Homo sapiens: one gene and its partners. The protein of the gene in region 2 purifies or fractionates together with the protein of the main gene of each other region. This does not show direct contact. Each region holds a gene or a part of one and is shown on either strand. Other genes may lie near its edges.

Evidence for each region.
Region 1: the proteins of RNF139 (region 2) and HM13 purify together in Homo sapiens (affinity purification with western blotting; 2 studies listed by BioGRID and IntAct, with this or other methods). This does not show direct contact.
Region 3: the proteins of RNF139 (region 2) and INSIG1 purify together in Homo sapiens (affinity purification with western blotting, with the first as the bait; 3 studies listed by BioGRID). This does not show direct contact.

What each region holds. Positions count from the first base shown.
Region 1 is NC_000020.11:31,509,565-31,517,525, forward strand, and holds the start of HM13 (signal peptide peptidase), read left to right. Parts: upstream 1-4,877; 5' UTR 4,878-4,987; coding exon 4,988-5,170; intron 5,171-7,961. UniProt on the Homo sapiens protein: Catalyzes intramembrane proteolysis of signal peptides that have been removed from precursors of secretory and membrane proteins, resulting in the release of the fragment from the ER membrane into the cytoplasm.
Region 2 is NC_000008.11:124,477,844-124,484,968, forward strand, and holds part of RNF139 (E3 ubiquitin-protein ligase RNF139), read left to right. Parts: intron 1-5,416; exon of another isoform or gene 5,417-5,564; intron 5,565-7,125. UniProt on the Homo sapiens protein: E3-ubiquitin ligase; acts as a negative regulator of cell proliferation through mechanisms involving G2/M arrest and cell death.
Region 3 is NC_000007.14:155,307,756-155,310,738, forward strand, and holds the end of INSIG1 (insulin-induced gene 1 protein), read left to right. Parts: intron 1-485; coding exon 486-515; coding exon of another isoform or gene 516-603; 3' UTR 604-2,480; downstream 2,481-2,983. UniProt on the Homo sapiens protein: Oxysterol-binding protein that mediates feedback control of cholesterol synthesis by controlling both endoplasmic reticulum to Golgi transport of SCAP and degradation of HMGCR.

The DNA of each region.
Region 1 (7,961 bases), on a different chromosome or scaffold from region 2:
CAACAGAGCTAGACTCCATCTCAAAACAAAAAAAAAAAAAAAAAAAAGTGAAACTATCTCAAAAAAAAGACTCAGGCCAAGACAGGTCTACACTTTCCCATCTTCTAAATTCAATTCAAAGGTCATCTAGAAGGCCAGTATGGCAAGGAAAAAACAAGTCTTCATCAAATCTAGTAGATCTAGATAAAATAAGATACAGGCCAGGCGTGGTGGCTCACACCTGTAATCCCAGCACTTTGGGAGGCCGAGGCGGGTGGATCATGAGGTCAGGAGATCAAGACCATCCTGGCTAACACGGTGAAACCCCGTCTCTACTAAAAATACAAAAAAAAAAAAAAATTAGCCGGGCACGGTGGCGGGTGCCTGTAGTCCCAGCTACTTGGGAGGCTGAGGCAGGAGAATGGCATGAACCCGGGAGGCGGAACTTGCAGTGAGCTGAGATCATGCCACTGCACTCCAGCCTGGGCGAAAGAACGAGACTCCATCTCAAAATAAAATATAAGATCCACATCTTGGTTGGGCGTGGTGGCTCACGCCTGTAATCCCAGCACTTTGGAAGGCCGAGACGGGCAGATCACGAGGTCAGGAGTTTGAGACCAGCCTGACCAACATGGTGAAACCCCATCTCTACTAAAAACACAAAAATTAGCCGGGCGTGATGGCGGGTGCCTGTTGTCCCAGCTACTCAGGAGGCTGAGGCAGGAAAATTGCTTGAGCCCGGGACACAGAGGTTGCAGTGAGCCAAGATCACACTACTGCACTCCAGCCTGGGTGACAGAACAAAACGCCATCTCAAAAAAAAAGATAAGATCCACATCTAATTTTATTGACACAGAAAATGTCAAGAACCCCAAATTTGGTTGGTTTGAAGAACATGTGAAGGGTTTGACTAGATGATGAATGTCAATATTAAATCAGCTGAAGTTTCATATACAAAATGAAGAGGAACAGCATTCAAACTTAGTTAAGACACAATTTCCTTGAGTGGCCAGGCATGGTAGTCATGCCTGTAATCCCAGCACTTTGGGAGGCCAAGGTGAGCAGATCGCTTGAGCCCAGGAATTCAAGACCAGCCTGGGCAACATGGTGAAACCCCATCTCTATAAAAAATGGAAAAATTAGCTGGGCATGGTGGTATATGCCTATAGTCCCAGCTACTCGGGAGGCTGAAGTGGGAGGGTCGCTTGAGCCCAGGAGGTCAAGGCTGCAGTGAGCTGTGATCATGCCATTGTGTTCCAGCCTGGGTGACAGAGTGAAAATGTGCCTTGAAATAAAATTTTCCTTTGAATACGGCTTAAGAAATATGGCCACTTAAAACTCTACCTTGAAAATAAATATAGATTTTATCTTATCTAGAGGTAGAGTGGGAAGTTTTCATTTGGTACATTAAATCTATAAGGCCATAAACAGGTAATATAAAAAGCTTTCATAATTCAATTTATATATAACATGAGAAGGAACTTCCAGGTGTTACTATGAATCTTCTATGTATAGTTACAGTCAATATACTTTATATAAGAGATAATTTTAATACCAATATAATCTAGATAACATTTTACTTTGTTATGTTATCATTGTTCTCTTGGGGAATAAATTTTTTCCTCTGAGGCTCTGGATTTGACATTGAATTTTGTGTGTACTAATTGACATGTGCCAGGGCAATGATGGACTGGAATCCACCCCCAAATCAAAGCATCATGGTAAATCTTGCTTATCCTTATAAAGTCAAATGATAGACATTTCCCATCACCTATTTCTATTCAACAAGAGCACCAGATTCAGTTAGCTAATCTGCTTCCAAAGAGTAGAACTGCATTGAGCTCAAATAATTTCAAAATACTGACTTTTTTTTATTTATTTATTTATTTTTTAGATGTGGTCTTGCTATGTTGCCCGGGCTGGTCTCTAACTCCTGGGCTCACACGATCCACCCACCTCGGCCTCCCAGCATGCTGGGATTACAGGCGTGAACCACCATACCCAGCCTATTTCTGCGTATGTTAAACATGCTTTACAATTTTAAAAATGAACTGTTTTGAAGGTAAAATTACAAATCTTGAAATTAAAAAAGCAAATATGTAAAGGAGCAAAAACTATAAATCAAACATTTGAGAAGAGAAAATTGGAGGCTAACTTGTATTAAATTCACAAAAACTTCTATACTTTCTGTAAATACTTTTTTAAAAAACTATAGATCAGAGGCTAGGCGCAGTGGTTCACGCCTGTAATCCTAGCACTTTGGGAGGCCGAGGCGAGTGGATCACTGAGGTCAGGCGTTCGAGACCAGCCTGACCAACATGGAGAAACCCCATCTCTACTGAAAATACAAAATTAACTGGGCGTGGTGACGCATGCCTGTAATCCCAGCTACTCGGGAGGCTGAGGCAGGAGAATCGCTTGAACCAGGGAGGCAGAGGTTGTGGTGAGCCGAGATTGCGCCATTGCACTCCAGCCTGAGCAAAAAGAGCAAAACTCAGTCTCACAACAAACAAAAAAACTATAGATCAGAATAACCACCTTTAGAACACTTTCGGTTATCAGTCAATATTTTTAGATAGAAGCTGGTAGTAAGCCTAAAGTGGGCTTAATTCTGCAGTAAACAACTGCCTCAACACATAGAAATCTTTTTTAAAATAGGCACTCTTGGCCGGGCGCGGTGGCTCATGCCTGTAATCCCAGCACTTTGGGAGGCCGAGGCGGGCGGATCACGAGGTCAGGAGATCGAGACCATCCTGGCTAACACGGTGAAACCCTGACTCTACTAAAAATACCAAAAATTAGCCGAGCGTGGTGGCGGGTGCGTGTAGTCCTAGCTACTCGGGAGGCTGAGGCAGGAGAATGGCGTGAACCCGGAAGCTGGAGGTTGCAGTGAGCCGAAATCGTGCCACTGCACTCCAGCCTGGGTGACATAGCAAGACTCCATCTCAAAAAAAAAAATAAAAAATAAATAAAATAAAATAAAATAGGCACTCTTGCGGGAGGTGGCAGCTCATGCCTATAATTGCAGAACTTTGGGAGGCCGAAGTGGGCAGATTGCTTGAGCCCAGGAGTTTGAGACCAGCCTGGGCAACATGCCGAAACCCCATCTCTACTAAAAACACAAAAAGTTAGCCGGGCGTGGTGGCACACACCTGTGGTCCCAGCTACTGGGGAGGCTGAGGTGGGAGAATCACCCAAGCCCAGAAGGTAGAGGCTGCAGTGAGCTGTGATCATGCCACTGCACTCCAGCCTGGGTGACAGAGTGAGACCCTGTCTCAAAATAATAATAATAATAATAATAATAATAGGCCCTCCTTGAAGTTTTTTGTTTGCACAGTCACACAGTGATGCTTAGATGTTCCAGTATCTAATATAGCCACAGTAGGCTGCAAGCAGTGGCTCATACCTGTAATCCCAACACTTTAGGAGGCTGAGGCAGGAGGATCACTTGAACCTAGGAGTTTGAGACCAGCCTGGCCAACATGGCAAAACCCCATGTCTAAGAAAATATATATTTTTAACTTTTTTAACAATATCAAAAATAAGAATCACATAAATAAACAGATTCTTCAAATTCTGAAAAGAGCCACAAAGCTTTATAAATTGTACAGGGGCATGAACTCGTAAGGTATTATAATTGCCTGGCACATAGTAGGCTCTCAATACATTTGCAAACTCCACACACACCTTACTTTCTTTTGCTTTATTTTTCTCTATTTATCTGCATTAACATGCTATGTAACACATAACTATACATTAACGTTTTACAAATTACAAATTTTTCTTGTTTTTTTTTTTTTTTTTTTTGAGACAGAGTCTCACTCTGTCGCCCAGGCTGGAGTGCAGTGGGCTCACTGCAACCTCCGCCTCCCAGGTTCAAGCCAGTCTCCTGCCTCAGCCTCCCAAGTAGCTGGGATTGTAGGCGCCCGCCACCACGCCCGGCTAATTTTTTATATTTTTAGTACAGACGGGGTTTCACCGTGTTAGCCAGGATGGTCTCGATCTCCTGACCTCGCAATCTGCCCACCTCGGCCTCCCAAAGTGCTGGGATTACAGGCGTGAGCCACCGCGCCTGGCCTTTTTTTTTTTTTTTTTTTTTTTTTTTTTCAGACGGAGTTTCGCTCTTGTTGCCCAGGCTGGAGTGCAATGGCTCAGTCTTGGCTCACTGCAACCTCCGCCTCCCGGGTTCAGGCGATTCTCCTGCCTCAGCCTCCCGAGTAGCTGGGATTACAGGTGCGTGCCACCACGCCCGGCTAATTGTTTGTATTTTTAGTGCAGACGGGGTTTCACCATATTGGTCAGGCTGGTCTCGAACTCGTGACGTCAGGTGATCCACCCGCCTCGGCCTCCTAGAGTGCTGGGATTACAGGCGTGAGCCACTGCGCCCAGCCCATTTTACAGACTTTTATTTTGTTCAGTTTCTTTATTGTCTTCCCAACGTCCCCCCACACACACTGCACTAAAATGCAAACTTCACGAAGGCAAGGAGGAACTTTTGCCTGTATTGTTCACCTCAGTGTCCCCAGAGCCTAGGTCAGTTGTTGGCATATTGAGGGACATTCAATAAATATTTAAGGAGTGAATAAACAATTGGATACCCAATAAATGCATGTATGAATAAACACATTCTTAGTTATTCGGAATATGAGGATTTGCGGAGAGTGGACAGCAGGGGATTGAGGAGACCGGCTGGGACTGGGAAATGGGCATTCGGGTCGCATGCCCACCGCAGTGGCCCAGAGCCCCTGTCCGGACCGCTAACAAGTTGCTTAGCAACCCGCCGCCCGGCCCTCGGCCACCGCTAGAGGGCGAGCGGGCGGGGAGACGTGCACGCGCGCGCGCGTGCGTGCAAGCGTGTGTGCGCGCGTGCGCGGCGCGGGCTTGGGAGGGAGCACGTCACTTCCTGTTGCCTTAGGGGAACGTGGCTTTCCCTGCAGAGCCGGTGTCTCCGCCTGCGTCCCTGCTGCAGCAACCGGAGCTGGAGTCGGATCCCGAACGCACCCTCGCCATGGACTCGGCCCTCAGCGATCCGCATAACGGCAGTGCCGAGGCAGGCGGCCCCACCAACAGCACTACGCGGCCGCCTTCCACGCCCGAGGGCATCGCGCTGGCCTACGGCAGCCTCCTGCTCATGGCGCTGCTGCCCATCTTCTTCGGCGCCCTGCGCTCCGTACGCTGCGCCCGCGGCAAGGTAGGGTCAGCGGGAAAACCGGGCACTTTCCACCCCCATACCGAACACGGCCGACATGGACCCTTCCTAGGCGGGACAGACACCTCTCCCCGGACACTGACTCTTCCCAGCCCTGATCACCACCGTTCCCTCTGTCTCGGGCCCACATTCCGGGGCTGGCATTTCCTACCCCGGGATCTGGGCACCGACCCCCGACCAGGGTATGATACCTTCCCCAATAGGAACTTGCTTCTGCTCCCGACCCGGACCCTGACACTTCCCTCCCTGTGCATCATGCCGCGGCTGGGAACGCTGTCAGCCCGTCCCCCACTGCGACTCGGGCACTGATTGTTCTGAGCCTGTTGGGCCCAGGCAGATCAGCCCCATCATGTATACCTGATGGATACTGGTCCTCACAACTTACTGAATGGTACAATTTCGTGTCATTCCCTGTTAGGAACCCTGCCTCAGCCCACCGCAGGGCCCTTTCTACCATCCAGACCCATCCCTAGACTCTGACTCCTGTCTCACTGGAATCTATGGCACCTTATGTGCTCACCTAGATCCCCCACACCTGGCCCTTGCCCCTGCCTCAAAAACAATGATCTCTTAGAGCCCAGTTTTTCACATCACTTTCTGGAACCATCCCAGTCAGCTGGCTCCTCAGAAGCTGGCATCTTGGTGCCTCTACTTTCCAACTAGGCATGGACGTCTTATTTTCCTGGTTTCCTCTCTTAACTACCATCCAACCTTGGACATGGCCTAGTCAAAACCTAGACCTTGTTCCTAACCTGTAACCCTTTTCCCACCCAGCCTTTGACCCTATCTCAAAGTAGCCCTTCTCCCCATACCCCCAAGACAATCCCCCCACCAAACTGGGCCTGTCTGCTGGGCCACTGTTGGCCCCTCTTGTGAGACTGGGCCAGACTCCATCCCTGGCCTTCCTCAACATCTGTCCTATTGGATAACTAGGAGGACTCCAGCACATTTCACCTTCTGCTTCTCCCTCCCCCTTCCCTGCCCCACTTCTTCCCTATATTAAGCCCTTTCTAGCCCGTTGTACCAATGACTTTTCACTTCCTGGCACCCTCTCCCTTCCTCCACAACCTCTTAATCTGCACCTTCCCGATGCTCCTCCCCCACCCAGACCTGAGGATGGACCTAAGTGGAAGTCTTGCCCAAAGAGGGCAGGCCCACAAAGCAGCTGCCACTTTTGAAACTGCTGAAGCTGAGGTTCTCAAAACACTACCCAACTTGAGCAGTAGCTGAGGCCTGCCATCTTCCTTCCCCAGGAGCAGAGAACTCACTACTGGCTCTGTATGCGATCAGATGCAAAGGAAAGTAGTTAGGCGGGGCTTAGGCTGAGAGACTCAAACATGACTCCATTTTCCTTTTTATTTGGCTTTTTCTAAGCTGAGTTCAGGTGATATTAAGCCTCTCTACTATGCCTGTCAGGTAGACACTTAGTGTAGAGAGCAGTTCTGAGATAACCCAGGACAGAGGAGGCGAAGGACAGCTGGCATAAGGCTAGGCAGCTTGATCTGAGCTGCTCTCCAAACTGAGTAATTCTCCCTGGCACCTTCTGTACATGGATCACTAATCTCTGCAGAAAACACCTTCCAGGCAACAGTATTTCCTGAACTTCCACCACTGTCAGGGGTAAGGGAGGATTGCTGCAAAGATGAGTAGGTCAGAGCCCTGTCACCAAGGAATTCGGGAGCGTAGGTGAAAGAATAATAACTAGATTGTGATTATACTACAAGCAATGCTACAAGGTTTAGGGAGAAAGATTGAGCACATCTGGGACAATGCAGGGAGGCTTTGTGCTAGAGGTAGGCCTGAGCCTTGACGTAGAGGTAGAATTTCAGCCAGGAGAAGGCATTCTAAGCAAAAGAAACCAGGTAAGCAGAGAGAGGTACGGAGGCAGGAGGCTACGAGGCAGTTCAGGAAATAGTGGAAGGTTTGGTGTGGCTGGAACAGAGGGTATGGATAGGAGAAAGCCTTAGCCTCTGAATACCTCTCCCAAGCATCTCCTGCAGGGCAGCAGGGTGTGGAGGACTGTATGAATTTACAAACAGGACCTGACCATTAAGAGCCTGCCACCACCAATGACCCAGATGCGGTAAAGCTTGCAAAACCTTGACGCCCTTTGATGCTCACAGCAACTGAGGTGGCAGGCAGAGCCAGTTTCATTATCCTCATTGTACAGGAAAAGAAACTGAGAGTCAAAGAAATGACTTCTGAAGATCACTCTGCCATTTAGGGGCAGAATCAGGTATGCCTAGTCCTCATCCAGGGCTCTCTCCTAACACAGGTACCTTTAAAGACAAGCAGCATTGACCTAGGGAAAGGACAGGGCAAATGACTCCCCTTCTACCCTGAGTCGTTTCCCTGGTCATGTGAAAAGGAGAGAGAAGAGTTAGTGTGGGGACCCAGTTTTGATTTCCCACCAGTGTTGGACCCCAAAACCAGTTGGGAGAGAGGGAATGTGAGGACAGAATCCCCAAGGGTCAAGGTGTCCATAACAGGCAGGGAAAATTGTGAAATCATGGAGAGAAAGAAGGTAGAGCCTCCAGGAGTATGTTGTGAAGAAGTAGCCTTGGGAGGAGCAGTCTCAGAGCAGCACCCATCACTGTCAGAGTCCTATATCCCAGACAGAAGCGAATATGACCCAGGCAGTAGCTGCACATTAAACATTGGTTTAAAGGGCCCTCAGCGAACAGGACTGGGTGCCTGCTGTGGGCTAGGCTCTGGGCTGGGTACCAGGAGTTCCGGGACAAAGAAGGCCAAGCCCTGCCCTCACTGAGCCCAG
Region 2 (7,125 bases):
ATTGAGGTGGGAAAAGGCTTTAAACATAACAGAAGACCCAGAAGTTCCAAGGAAAAATCTGAAAAATTTCAGTACATAAAAATAAAAAGCTTTTTTATGGCAAAGCTTAAAAAAGAATCCTTAAATGACAAACTGAGATAAAATACTTCTATCATAAGTGATTCACGTTCCAGTAAGAGTTTTACCCTGCCAGGGAAGCTGAGGCAGGAGAATCGCTTGAACCAGGGAGTTGCAGGTTGCAGTGAGCCGAGATCGCTCCACTGCACTCCAGCCTGGGGATAGAGTGAGACTCTGTCTAAAAAAAAAAACAAAACAAAACAAGAAAAAACTTATACTCCCTTAGGAAAATGCCTAAGACAAGCAATTCACAATAAACAAAATGCAGATGTTCAATAAGCAAGAGAAAAAGTATTTAGCCCTTCCTGCAGTAGCTTGATTTTATGGGGGAAAAAAAAAAGTACCTAGCCTTGTTTATAATTAAATACTGTCAAGACCGCTTACGGTGGCTCACGCCTATAATCCCAGCACTTTGGGAGGCTGAGGCAGGCAGATTGCTTGAGGCCAGGAGTTTGACACCAGCTTGGCCAAATGGCACAACCCGTGTCTACCAAAAAATTAGCCGGGTGCAGTGACTCCTGCCCATAGTCCCAGCTACTGTGGAGGCTGAGGCACGAGAATCTCTCGAATCGGGGAGGTGGAGGTTGCAGTGAGCCAAGATCGCGCCACTGCACTCCAGCCTGGGCGATAGAGCGAGACTGTCTCAAAAAAAAAAAAAAAGTCAAAAAAAATTTATCAGATTGGTGAAGAGTTCAAAGTTTTATTAGTTTTGCAAAGGTATTTACCTTTTTGAAATAGGTAAATTTATACAATTTTGGAAGACTTTTTTTTTTTTTTGAGACGGAGTTTGCTCTTGTTGCCCAGGCCGGAGTGCAATGGCGTGATCTCGGCTCACCACAACTTCCACCTCCCAGGTTCGGGCGATTCTCCGGCCTCAGCCTCCCGAGTAGCTAGGATGATTACAGGCAAGCGCCACCACCCCCGGCAAATTTTTTTCTATTTTTAGTAGAGACAGGTTTTCTCCATGTTGGTCAGGCTGTTCTCCAACTCCCGACCTCAGGTGATCTGCCCACATCGTCCTCCCAGAGTGCTGGGATTACAGGCGTGAGCCACCGTGCCTGGCCCGGAAGACTCTTAATTTCAGTGTAAAACCATTTGGCAGTATCAACTGTCATTTACAACTGACTTCTCAGTGTTTTGTTTTGTTTTTGAGACAGTCTCACTCTGTCACCAAGGCTGGAGTGCAGTGGCGTGATCTCAGCACACTGCAACCTCCACCTCCCAGGTTCAAGCGATTCTCCTGCCTCAGCCTCCCAAGTAGCTGGGATGCCTGGCTCGTACAACTTTTGACTCACAATTTCAATTCTAGGGAATTGGCCTAGAGAGATAGTTTGCTTAAGGACTATGGGCAAGCATTACTGGAAATAACAAAGCAACAAACTTAATCTAAATATGTATTGATACAAATCTGTTCATTGTATTAGGTCTAGCCATGCAATAAAGTTCTTGAAAGAAATGAGATAGCTATTTTTGGTGCCGAAAAAGACTTCAGAAAACCTCTGAAGTGAAAAAACAAAGCCGAAGTAATTATCACTGGCAGAGGAATAGACAGAGATTTCTCAACAGTGGCAGTATTGACATTTTGGACAGGATAATTCTTTGTTTGCGGATGGGAGCTCTCCTGTGCACTGTAAGATTTTTAGCAGCATCACTATCCCCTGCCCATTAGATGCCAGTAGCACCTTGCACCCCCACACCCCAGTGTGACAGCCAAAACTGTCCCTGGATATTGCCAAATCATGGTTGAGAACCATTGGGATAGACAAATAGATTAGTACTTAGCCTTATTTATAATTACATAGCCCAGAAACAGACACCAATGTATATATAGAAATAATGTGTTTCAGAGATAGAATTGAAGTACATTGAGGTAAATATGGACTGTTGAATTAATGATCATTTTGTTACACCTTTGGAAATAAATTATACTAGATGTCTACCTTATGTCAATATATAGACAGTCACTTCTAGGTTGAGCAGTGTAGTGAGACCCTGTCTCTGCAAAAATAAATATTTAAAATAATAGCCATACTTGGTGGTGGGTGCCTGTAGTCCTATCTTACTCAGGAGGCTGGGGTGAGAAGATCGCTTGGGCCTAGGAGTTCAAGGCTGCAAGTGAGCTATGATTGCATAACTGCACTCCAGCCTGGCTGGGTGACAGAGCAAGACCCTGTCTCTTAAAAAAAAAAAATAGTCATTTCTAAGTGTATTCTTACCTAGATGTATATGTAAATATGAAATGCAGAACTTTAAATTTTTAGAAAAAAATATGGAATATTTTATTTTTCCAATCTTAGATTAAGGAAGAAATCCTTAAAAATATATAAAAGCAAATACATAATGAAGATTGATAAACCGAATGATATTGAGGTTAAAAACCTATGTTAATCAAAAGATCGCACCACTGCACTCCAGCCTGGGCAACAGAGCGAGACTCCATCACTAAAAAAAAAAAAAAAAAAAAAAGGAAGTCAAATCTTGGGTAAGGGGGAACTACTGTACTTACATTTACCCATTTATTATAAAGGCAATTACAAAGGACACAGATGAATTAACCCGATGGAAGGAGATGTACAAGGTGAGACAAAGAAGGAGAGAAGAGGAGAAGGGGCGTGGAGCTTCAGTGTTCAGCTATCTGAGAGCTCACAGAACTCAGTCCTTTTGGGCTTCTATGGAAGTTCATTAAATAGGCAAGATTGATTAGATCACTAGTCATTGGTTTATGGACTCAAGTTTCAGCTTCTTTCTTCCCAGAAGTGGCGGCTGGGGGTAGGAATCAAAGTTATAACCCTTAATCACTGGGCTGATTCCCCTGGCTACCTAGCCCCCATCCTGAAGCTATCTAGGGGCCCCCAGGCACCAGTCATCTGATTATTGTACAAAACAGTCATCACTCCAGAGATTCCAAGGATTTTAGAAGCTATGTCAGAAAATGGGACAAAGACCAAATATTAATATTTTTTTTATGATATCACAGATGGGAAAGACAAACTAGAAAAACTTGCTTTAACTCTTCATTTAACACCTCTCTGTAGGGTTTGGCTTTTTAAAATCCATGTTCATATATTTTTGATAAAAGCATACTTATTATAAGTTTAGTTTAAAAGCAAAAGTTTAATTTTGTGTTAATACTTAGAATACCAGGTTTTTTTTCAACCTAAAATGAGAATCCAATAGAAATGTTTTCTTTATAATTTATCAAGTATACCAACAGATTAACAACATTTCAAGACACTTTGTTGTAAACTTCATTGCGGAAGGCTCCCTTGGGAGTAAGGTAGTAGTAACATTTATTTCTGTGCTTTTCCATATTTATTCTGTCAGGTATTGAAATGTTTTTCCACAGGTTGCTTTTTGTTTTAGAGGTATTTCGGGTACTTGGAGAATTGTAAATATTATGTTTTGTACCCTGATTTTTAGTCATAAGTTTCCAAAAGAGGGTAAGGGTATGAATAGACTTTACACATAAAAGAGTGAAACACTTTGTTATGTAACATGTATAGTAAGTTTTTATTTTTTCTTTTGTTTTTATTTGCCTGTTTTTGGTAATCCAAATTGAAAAGGCCTGAACTCTTTCATGAGTTGAGTTCATATATAGTTTCAAAGTTCCTGAATTGATTTGGATACCTGCCTCTTTTTGGCTACCTTGAAAACTCTAGTGAACTCTCTTAATCACTGGAGAATTGGACTGAGATCTCTGAGTTGTGATTTCAGTAAATTCTGTTCTCAAAATTTTTTATAAAGCAGCATTTATATACAGTCTTGATTACTTGTGCAAGTCACTTCCAAATCCTAATGAGAAACTGTCTCTGGACTTTTATATTTTCTTAGACCTACAGTTTAAATACCAAGAAAGGCTTTCATGTCTAATGTAAAAATGCAGTGAAACTTTGATATTATTCTGCAAAGGCCATGAGAAAGATGATTACTTTGGAGACTTGTTACTTAGGATATTGGTTTTTAAAATGAGAGCAGATTCTTCCCAAATTCCATAGGTAGGAACGTGACTATAAAAGGAAAATCTATGAACCCCATATACCTACAAACTTTGGGTAGGAATTAAAACAAACATATACTATTCTTGAAATGTTAACTCACTATTACATCTTGGGGGGTGTGATTTTAATCAGGATAGAGTATTGTCAGATTGTTACTTGCTGGGATACATCCAAATTTTGAGGTTGTAGTCTTACTACATTATTTGTCTATCTGATGCCTTCCCCTTTTTTTCTTTGATACATTTGCATAAAGCAAAATGGCACTTTTTCACTAGAAATGTTTCTAAAACCCAAATAATTTCTTCATTTGTGTGTAGTAAAAACAAGCTTCAGGAAAAAAGTTATTAGAATTTTAAAAATTAGTTATAAAATTATGGCAAAGCTCATGAATAGTTACTGAAGATTAATTTACTACTTTGTGAATAGCAAGTTGACAAAAATAATTTACAGTTCCTGCTTGACTTTCTCCCCTCTAAGTGGCATAAAGTAGAACTAGAGTTATTTTGTTTTGGTTTTGACCCAACTTAGAAGATTTGTTTTAAAGTTTCTGAAGTTTTGTCTCAGGAAAATAAGGTGGTTTTCCATGTAGAGAATGTAAGATTACATATGGCATCTGGTAGGCTGAATTAATTCCATTTTCTTGTTACCTTCCATGGAAGAAGTTTCTAATAAAAAAATCTTTTCAGGGCCGAGCGCAGTGGCTCACGCCTATAATCGCAGTAGTTTGGGAGGCCGAAGCGGGTGGATCACCTGAGGTCAGGAGTTTGAGACCAGCCTGACCAACGTGGAAAAACCCTGTCTCTACTGAAAATGCAAAATTAGCTGGGAGTGGTGGTACATACCTGTAATCCCAGCTTCTTGGGAGGCTGAAGCAGAAGAATCGCTTGAACCTGGGAGGCAGAGGTTGCAGTGAGCCAAGATCACGCCATTGCACTCCAGCCTGGGCAACAGGAGCGAAACTCCATTAAAAAAAATATAAAAAAAAATATATATATATATAATATATATATATTATTTAAATATATATATATTTAAAAATATATATATTAAAAATATATATATATATTTAAATATATATATATTTAAAAATATATCTATTAAAAATATATATATATTATTTAAATATATATATATTTAAAAATATATATATTAAAAATATATATATTTAAAAGAGCCTGTTCTGAGCTCACAACTCTTTGGGGGATTATTAGTGGCCCATTTTCTTGGGGAATCAGGTGGTTTGTATTTAGAGGTTTATATGTCTTCTACTTTATTGTGTCCTTTTGTTTTCCTTTTCACAGATGACTTGACATTTTGGCACAGAATACATTTTAAATCCCTGGACAGAGTCATCACTTAAATGAACTAGCCCTTGCTTATATGTGCAGTGGATTGTGAAATGCGTCTACTGTAATAATATGCAATGTCTTGATTACCTGCTGAAATAAGGTGGATAGATGGATTTTTATTTTATTTAATATTTATTTATTTATGTATTTTGAGACAGGGTCTCACTGTCACCCAGGCTGGCATGCAGTGGTGCGATCTCAGCTAACTGCAATGCCTCCCGGGTTCAAGCGATTCTCCCACCTCAACCCCCTGAGTAGCTGGGAGTACAGGCACGTGCTACCACCCTGGCATATTTTTATATTTTTGGTAGAGACAGGGTTTCACCATGTTGACATGGTCTTGAACTCCTGGCCTCAAGTGATCCACCCGCCTCAGCCTCCCAAAGTGCTGGGATTACCATTGTGAGCCACCACACCCAGCCAAGATGGATTTTTAATTTGGAGTTTGTCACTTTTTCTGTACTCCAGGGTATGGTTTCTCATTGTCTGAAACATAGATTTTATTTTTCAAGCAGGCTATATTTTGTGGTTGCCTTTAAAAACATCCAGATGTGACAGACATTTCCTAATGAATACTAATTGTACTTATTTTGTACAAAATATTGTAGAATCCATAGATGGACAGGGTAGGATCTTTGCTTTCTGTTATAGATACATGTGTAATAGGGTAGATTATACTTAGATAACTGCAGACTACAATATCAGGTGATATATGAGTGTTAAATGTTTCACTAAGTTCTGCAGGTATGCTGAAAGAACAGTTTCTATCAAAGAAAGTAGGTTTCTAGGATAGGTAGGATTTGAATAGTCAGGGATTGGGAGGTTGGGGACATCATTCCAAGCAAAAAGAATGTAAACACTGCTGTAGCTATAGTGGAGAAAGGAATGTGTTTGGGGAATCCAAGTCTGGAGCACTGATGTGTGTGTGTTAGGAGGAATATTACTGTAAAGCAAATTGGGTTCTTGAATGCCAGGAGCAAGAATGTAGATTTTAGTTGATAGTAATTTCAGAGCCGCTGAAGTATTTTGAGCAGGGAATGAAGAAAGGCAATTTGGTGATGGCTTGTAAATGGATTTGGACAAGATGAGGGTTTTTTGAGACAGACTGATTGATTGGTGTCACAGAAAAGGGAGATAGAGGTGTTAGAAGAATTTGGCAACTAATTGGCAAAGTTTGAGCATGTGGGGCTGGGTTGGGAGTATCTCTAAAAGAACAATAATGGTACCTTCAACTGAAATAGCAAATCACAAGGAAAAGCTGATTCTAGTTTAAGGCAAGTCGAGTTTCAGAACTTTGGAGATTTGCAGTTGTAGGAGTGAAAGTAGGTGAGTATTCAGATGTCATTCCCATTGTTGAAACCTTGGATAATAATGTGTTTATTGTAATCCTACTTAAAATATGCATTTCTGTCAGAGTACAAAGAAAGATGGTGTCTATGGAGTGGGGGAAGGAGAATTACCATTTTCTAAAAACATGTCTTGGTTTTCTGAGTGTTACTTTTGTAATGTGAAGAACAATAAAAAGAGTTGACTATTTTAAGAAACAGATTCAGCATTATACAGGAAAAAGGGAACTTGGAAGATGTTTCTAAGTCCGAAGGAAACTAGGAGGAAAAAAAATGGAATTTTGGACCCTTTGGAGAATGCTCAGAGTTAAGGAG
Region 3 (2,983 bases), on a different chromosome or scaffold from region 2:
CATCAGATACTAATAAAGGTTTGTGGCAGAAACCTCCCTTCAGATAAAGGTTCAATCCCTTAAATTGCAGTTAGAACTTTCAGGAACCTATCATACCCTAAGCATCACCATGCTTTGATAAAATTGGGTGTTTCCTTTATATAGATATTAATTTAGTTAAACTTTCACCAATATCTTACACTTATATAACAGGCTTTATATAAGGGCCTCAGCAGCGTAATTTCACCTGAGGCAGAGAATTATCCTAATTTTGCAGGTGAGAGCTGTGGCTCACGGGGCCAGAGCCATGAAGACGGTGCAGGGGAGCTGGGAGAGCTGGCCTCGGTCTCCAGTTCTCTGCACATGTCCCACCTCTCAATCTTGTTGCTTCAGTCAAAGAAAGTGTCAATCTTTCCCATGTTAGGACCTACTTAATTGGTAATTAAAATATTTATACATTTAGTGCTAATTTTCTCTTTCCTTTTTTTTTTCCTTTCTACACATAGGGTGTTCCTGAAAAGCCCCATAGTGATTGAGTCTTCAAAACCACCGATTCTGAGAGCAAGGAAGATTTTGGAAGAAAATCTGACTGTGGATTATGACAAAGATTATCTTTTTTCTTAAGTAATCTATTTAGATCGGGCTGACTGTACAAATGACTCCTGGAAAAAACTCTTCACCTAGTCTAGAATAGGGAGGTGGAGAATGATGACTTACCCTGAAGTCTTCCCTTGACTGCCCGCACTGGCGCCTGTCTGTGCCCTGGAGCATTCTGCCCAGGCTACGTGGGTTCAGGCAGGTGGCAGCTTCCCAAGTATTCGATTTCATTCATGTGATTAAAACAAGTTGCCATATTTCAAAGCCTTGAACTAAGACTCAATTACCAACCCGCAGTTTTGTGTCAGTGCCCAAAGGAGGTAGGTTGATGGTGCTTAACAAACATGAAGTATGGTGTAATAGGAATAATATTTATCCAAAAGATTTTTAAAAATAGGGCTGTGTTTAAAAAAAAAAACAAAACAAGAAAAGCAGCAGTGATTATAGAGAGGTCACACTCTAAGTGGGGTCGCGGCGTGGCCACGCTTCACGGTCACGCTCGTCCGTCCTGCAGTGGCGTGTTTACATGGTCACACGTGTGTGTATCACCAGTGGGTCAACTGCTTGTCATTCCTCCCGTGGCAGTTTGTGTAGACAATCTTACTGAGCAAAAGGCAATGAAAAGTCTTGGTTCCCACACTGCGATATATTGGAATTTTCACCTCAGTTTATGAAGTTTATTTCGAAATCCATAGTCATCTAAGAATGAATACCTGTCTGCCATGTATTTCAATCTTAGTGAGCCAAAATTGTTTGTTTGTTACTACAGAATAGAGATGACTGTTTTTTGCCACAGCCCTATGGAATTTGCAATCTGTGATTGCCTTGTAAAAAGGAGAGTGCATATGGCACTGCATTAAACGTGTGGTGTTTCTAGTCAATGATATTGGTGAGCACAATGTATTCATTTAATGGCATAGACCATACCAGACCTAATTTGCAAGTATTGGGTCTTAAACTTCAAGTGCAATGTATATGAAAACCAATCTGAGCCTTGTATCTCTTAAATATTTATTTTTTTTAACGTGTGAGATGTTCGAGAGAAGGTTCTCCATTCATTTCAGTGCTGCCTGGAGGAAACTCGGCAATGATTTCTTTCAGTTGTGAAGTTCCTTTCGTGTTACACCCTCCACTGAACCCTCAACCTTCGAAATACTCCAGTTTTGTGGGTTTGGTCATTTTTACTTATAAATTTACCTTTTTGTATTTTGCAATTTACATGTGTTTGGTTTGTTTTAAATTCTGTGAAAGTGGCTTGATTAAAAGACTCCTTTTAAATGGAAGCCACCAGTCAGCAGAATGGAAGCTTAGAGGAACTTGCCTGTGAGCGCTGGTCTTTGTGTTTGGTTTTGTGATGTAACGATCTTTGCTGGGGTTTTTTGCTTTGTTTTGAGGGAAATGTCTTGGAGTAAATTTTAAGTTCCTGGAGTTAATTTGTTTTACAGGAATTTTGTTTTTTAAAAAAATAGGATCATTCTGAACTTTGGAATGACCCCCTTATATATTTTCTGAAAATGAAAACAGTTACATGAAAAAAATTTCCAATGAAGATGTCAGCATTTTATGAAAAACCAGAAGTTATTAGATGAAAGCAGCGAGTGAATCTTTAAAACAGACTTGATCACGCACACACAATAAGTCTTTCTCTCCGAAACCGGAAGTAAATCTATATCTGTTAGAAATAATGTAGCCAAAAGAATGTAAATTTGAGGATTTTTTTGCCAATAGTTTATAGAAAATATATGAACCAAAGTGATTTGAGTTTGTAAAAATGTAAAATAGTATGAACAAAATTTGCACTCTACCAGATTTGAACATCTAGTGAGGTTCACATTCATACTAAGTTTTCAACATTGTGTTCTTTTTGCATTCATTTTTTACTTTTATTAAAGGTTCAAAACCAAGTGTTGTATTTATGTTTGCTTTTTAAAAAACAGTTGGGGTGGTGGTCTCTGTGTAGGATGTTAGAATTTGTAATGGAGAAATATTTTGCAGTTCTTCAAATTTTACTGAATTTTGACACAACCTCTTGGGAAGTATTTGAATCATCCTTCAATATACACAGGACATTGGTTCCAGGATACCCCACGTATGCGAAAATCTGCATACTCAAGTCTGGCACTTGGCCCTACGGAACCTGCGTACACTAAAAGTCAGCCCTCCGTATACGTGGGTTTCACATTCAGCAAATAAACCATGTTTGGTTGGAAAAGCTCCATGTATATAAGTGGACCCACAGGTTCAAACCCTGTGTTGTTTAAGGGTCAACAGTATGTGTTTTTCTTATGGTAGAAAGTTTTAAGTGCAGCACGAGCTGAATTGAACCTGCCACCTTACCCCTCCTCACCACAGGCACCCGGTTTTCAGGCAGGAGGAGCGGGCATGCCTGGCCTGTCACAGGGGCAGC